Linked DNA regions of Homo sapiens: region 1 is linked to region 2. A link means that fine-mapping ties the variant in region 2 to the expression of a gene that starts in the linked region. Tissue or cell type: whole blood. Region 2 holds a variant in brackets; the other region holds the start of a gene. All regions are shown on one strand. Distances are between the middles of the regions. Region 1 holds the start of ICA1L (islet cell autoantigen 1 like). Region 2 overlaps WDR12 (WD repeat domain 12).

Region 1 (2,500 bases), 36 kb after region 2:
GAGAAATGCCTCATTTGGTAAGATTCAGGAAAGCCATCCCAAGGAAATAGGTCAATCACTCATGTTTGCCAAACGCTAATTTTTACCCTTCTGAGGAAAGCTGTAGACTCCTCAAAAAAACAAACAAAATTTTGCACATAATCTCAGGTATTTGCCTATTCCTTGAAATCCAAATATCTCAGGGTAAAAGTCTAAAGACATTTAATGTTTTCAGTCCAAATTAACCCTCTGTAGCTTGCCACTTTTCCTATTCTAAAAGTATAATTTCCAGGTTAAGGTGAGTATTTTGTACTGTTAATATTCCAGAACCTCGGCCGGGCGCGGTGGCTCATGCCTGTAATCTCAGCACTTTGGGAGGCCGAGGCGGGCGGATCACGAGGTCAGGAGATCGAGACCATCCTGGCTAACACGGTGAAACCCCGACTCTACTAAAAATACAAAAAACTTAGCCAGGCGTGGTGGCAGGCGCCTGTAGTCCCAGCTATTCGGGAGGCTGAGGCAGGAGAATGGCGTGAACCCGGGAGGCGGAGCTTGCAGTGAGCCGAGATCGCGCCACTGTACTCCGGCCTGGGCGACAGAGCGAGACTCCGTCTCAAATAAAATAAAATAAAATAAATTCTAGACTCACCCCATCTTTGTCATCATACAGATTTTAATTATCACCTCGAGTGTTAACCTTTTAATTCTTTGCTAGCCTATGTGTCGCAGTTGTAATTAATAATTCGTATTCTGCTGTTTTAGGAAAGTTCTTTTAAGTTTTGGAGTCACCTTTAAAAAGAATGAAGTTTGAATTTATTAAATTATCTCCTACTAGTAGTAAATAGTTTTGCCTTCCTTTTTGTTTTTTTCCTGAGACTTTCAGGATCCGGTTTTACCTTTTACTCTTGAAGATTCATCATAAACATTATGGATATGGATATGTGCATTTGAGATTGGTTATGAACGGTTGTTAACTTAGACCTCTTTAAACCTTTAACACGGGAGTTAAATACAGCGGGCGAACGCTTTCCGCCTAAGGAGCACTGGTGCTAAGGGGCCGCCCCAGAAGGCCCGGCAGGTCCGGGGGTGGGGGTGCTCGGAGGGAGCCGGGAGGGCCCCGGGCCAATGCCTTCCACTTCCCCACGCCTCAGAGAGCTCACACTCAGCTCCTCGTAATGTTCTGACCGGTTTGGTGTTTGTCATTTCACTTTATTAAGTAAAGAGGAAATCGGGAAAGGAGGAATAGAGAGGGTCCCCGAGTTCATTCAAGAGCAGACCGAGAGATGCTCCGATCCCGAGTCGGGCCGGTGGCGGGGTCAGGCCGGCGCCCGAGGGGGGCGAACGCGGACGCCAGGTCGCGCGGTTTAAATCTCCCGCCTCCCGCAGCGGGAGCCTGACACCTCCACGCACTGGTGCGGAGGGGCACTGGCTGCCGGAGGGCCGGGAGTCGGCGCGGGGCTCGCGGGCGGTGGCCGGAACGGGTGCCGGGACGGATCACCGTACGGCCGAACGCGACCCGAGGAGGCGGAAGAGCGGCGCCGGTAAGCTTCTGCTGCCTCCTGTCCGCCCCTATTCCCCCTCAGGCGGCGGTCAGGCCCGGAGACCAAATCCCGGGTTCCCATGGCGACGCCGGGAGGCGGGGGCGCGGCGGGAGGCTCCGGCCACACGCGCGCGCGCGCGGCTTCTCGGGGCCTTGCTGGCCTCCTCGGTTCTCTGGGGGACCCCGGCCGCTGCCTGCGGCCTTCTTCCAGGCGAGGCCCTGCTCGGGGTTCTTCCGGCCTCCCCCCAGGCAAAACCCGCAAGGAGCGGTTTCTGGCGTGGCTGGGTCCCCTGCGGCGGAAGGGCGCCTCCCGGCCACGCTCGCTGTAGTGAAGGAGCGCGGCAGCCTGGGGCTCGTTTGGGTGATTTCCCTCGGCGGTGGAGGTCGCTCCTAATAGAGGCGGCGGCGGATCACCCGAACAGCCTTCAGGTGCTTCCCTGCTGACCTCTTTTTAACGTGGTGCTTATTTTTATTTCGCTATTATTTTGTAATGGGAATGTCTTCCTTAGAAACTAATTGGCAACCGATGGATAAAAACAAAACATAGTAAATGTGCAGTTTGAGCTGAACTGCAGAATGCACGGGCCCGCGAGGGGCTCCGCGCACAGATCCTGCTCCTTAGGCCGGCAACCCGACCCCACGGCACAGATATGGCTCCTGGAAACGCGCGTCAGCTGGTCAGGTGCCCAGGTGATGTCAGTGGTCAGATACCTGATGCTCTAAGGAAGACGGAGAGGGGAAAGCGGGGAGTCCATCCTGGCAGCTCACCCGCGATGCTGGGGCGTTGCCAGTAGAGGGGGTGGAATCATTTTTCGTGTAATAGATGATCTTGATGCACACAGCATAAAAGCTGTTATAAACTATGGGTCTCTGTAAAATAGATTGTTGGGAAGGTAACATTTTTCCATGGTTTTGATTTTTCCCAAAAGTATTTATGTATTGATTTATTTGGTTCTGACTCAGGCGACGTACTGTAAGACG
Region 2 (3,036 bases):
GCAGAGGTTGCAGTGAGCCAGGATCAATGCAACTGCACTCCAGCCTGGGGAACATAGTGAGACTCTATCTCAAATAAATAAATAAATAAATAAATAAATAATAAAATTCTTGCTTTTTCTTTTTGCTTAATATTATGGTCAGTAAAATGGAGGCGGGGGGCTAATATAATTGTCACACACACACACAAGAATATACATATATGTGAATTATATACATAAATATATAGCTATAGCCTTATTGCTCAAAGTGTGGTTTGAGGATCATCAGCATCATATTTGCAAAGTTGTGCAACCATCACCACAGTCAATTTTAGAACATTTTTCATCATCCTTGAGCTGTTTGTTAAATAATACCCCCAGCCCTAGGCAACCACTGATCTACTTTCTAGCTCTGTAACTTTCTCTCTTCTGGACGTTTTGAATAAATGGAATTATATAATGTGATCTTTTGTGACTGGCTTCTTTCACTTACTATGATTTTTAAAAAATGGTTTCATTATATCATAGTATATATTAGCACTTCATTCCTTTTTGTGGCCAAATAATAGGCCATTGAATGGAGGTACCATATTTTTCCATTCATCAGCTGGTGGGCATTTAGGTTGTTTATACCTTTTAGCTATTATGAATAGTTGTTATGTGAACACTCGTACAAGTTTTCGTGTGGATGTATGTTTTCGTTTCTCTTGCATATATGCTTAGGAGTGGAGTTTTTGGGTCAGATGTAATTCCATGTTTGAGTTTTTGAGGAACTGCCAGACTGTTTTCCAAAGCAACTGCACCATTTTACGTTACTGCCAGCAATAATCAGGGTTCCAATTGCTCCATATTTTCACTGACACTTGTTATTAGCTGTCTTTTTACTTATAGCACCCTAGTGGATGTGAAATTATATTTCATTGTGTTTGATTAACATTACCTGGATGACTAATGATGAGCATTTGCATGTCCCTATTGGGCCATTTTAAAATTTGTGTTGTCTTTTTATTATTGAGTTGTAAGTGTTCTTAATATAGTCTAGATACAAGTTCCTTATTAGATACATGATTTGCAAATATTTTCTCACAGTCTCTCTTATAAGAGTCTCCTAATCTGCCTCCTGTCATGTGTTCCTCTATTTCAGTGCCCATTGTGCAGCCAGAAAGATCTAACTAAATAAAATCTGATGATACTTCTAATTTGCACTGCTGTGATAGTTCTTCATTACCCACAAAAAAGAAGTAAAAATGATTTCACATGATATATAAAGCACTCCATGTGTATCTCTTTAGCCTTTGGTCACTTTGGAGCAAAGTCAGATTTTCTGGAAGTGGCTGGGCAGTTTAACAACTCCTAGCTATTGTTTTGATGTTCTCTCTGGTTTCGTCCA[C/T]ACTGCTTCTTCCAGCCTACCCTTCCCTCACCTGGCAAAAACTCACTTCTCTTTTGAGACAGGGTCTTGCTGTGTCACCCAGGCTGGAGTGCAGTGCAGTGGTATAATCTCAGCTCACTGCAGCCTCGACCTCCTGGGCTCAGGCAGTCCTCCCACCTCAGCCTCCCAAGTAGCTGGGACTACGGGCACATGCCACCACGCCTGGCTAATCACTTTTCTAAATGTTGCTTAACAGTTATCTTTTCTGTGGATCGTTTCTGGCCCTGCTCCCCTGCCCTCCTTTTCTGTGGTTAAAATGACCTATGGTGTCTTTGTTCTTTTTATACATGTCACCTAATGGCATTGTTCTTATATAACTTCATTCTATTTGATTACTAAACTTCAACCTCATCTTAGAACAGAGACCATGTTTTAATTCATTTTTGTTTACAACATGTAGCAAAATGTCTGGATGTCTGGCATTTATTTACCCAATAAATGTATGTTGAATTCGTAAAAGCATGTTTGTTCAAATATCTGTAGACTTGATCTTGACATATCATTTCCTTTTTATAGATATGCCGTAGATGATGTTCCCTTCTCAATCCCTGCTGCCTCTGAAATTGCCGACCTTAGTAACATCATCAATAAACTACTAAAGGACAAAAATGGTGGGTATATATGCTTAGGAGAGGGCACAGTGTCCCTAATTATTCTAAAATGCATTAAGTTTTTAGTTCCTTTTTTGGCCTTATGATACTGTATGAATTTTGTAGTGGTAAAATTTGTAAGTTATAAAGTACAGGTTCTTCTGCTGGATGATACTGTAAATACTGCTTTGAAAGAAAAGTTTTCAGAAAAAAATTTCTGTTTAATCTGTTTTTAAGGCCATGTGGAAATATGGTGGTTGTAGTTAAGGAATAAAGATTTTGGTATAAAGTTGTAATATAGAGGTAATCAAGACATTGATTGTTCTACAGAGGGCTGAGTTATGCAGGCATAAAACAAGCGTTTTAGTGCTTAGGCCCCATTTACTAGTGAAGCACAAAGCAAAATGACAATATCAGTATTTGAGTGTTTAGTGTAATATCAAAATGACAGTATGAATACCAGTATTTTATTTTTTGTGTCCAGAATTCATAAAAAAAGGATATAACAAAACATGGAAGAATATAAAACATTTAAAAGATACAAATATTAAATATATACTATTGTACTAATATAAGTTATTTGCCCATTAAATTAATATGAACAATGTATGTAAAAATATCAATGAAATAAGATTGGCTATGAGTTAATAATTGTTGAAGTTTGTAATCCCAGCACTTTGGGAGGCCGAGGCGGGTGGATCACGAGGTCAGGAGTTTGAGACCAGCCTGACCAACATGGTGAAACCCCGTCTCTACTAAAAATACAAAAATCAGCCAGGCGTGGTGGCACATGCCTGTAATCTCAGCTGCTAAGGAGGCTGAGGCAGGAGAATTGCTTGAACCCGGGAGGCGGAGGTTGCAGTGAGCCAAGATCGCACCATTGCACTCCAGCCTGGGTGATAGAGGAAGTCTCAAAAAAAAAAAAAATGTTGAAGTTTGGTGATAGGTGTAAGGAGGCTCCTTATATTATTTTCTGTATCTCATTGTAGTTTTGATTGATATTTCTGAACTTTTCCATATGTATGAAATTTTCTATAA

The links. PIP is the estimated chance that this variant, and not a neighbour inherited with it, causes the effect.
Region 1: it holds the start of ICA1L, and the variant in region 2 is fine-mapped to the expression of ICA1L in whole blood (INTERVAL, PIP above 0.99).

What each region holds. Positions count from the first base shown.
Region 1 is chr2:202,870,639-202,873,138 of GRCh38, reverse strand. ICA1L (islet cell autoantigen 1 like) reads left to right here and starts at 1,373. Exons shown (of 13, transcript NM_001288622.3): 1 at 1,373-1,520. RefSeq lists silencers at 1,061-1,190, 1,251-1,300, 1,341-1,830.
Region 2 is chr2:202,906,848-202,909,883 of GRCh38, reverse strand. WDR12 (WD repeat domain 12) reads left to right here. Exons shown (of 13, transcript NM_018256.4): 2 at 1,925-2,019. Among named protein-coding and RNA genes, the nearest start is that of WDR12, 3.3 kb to the left of the region's middle. The variant C/T (reference allele first, on the strand shown) is at 1,370.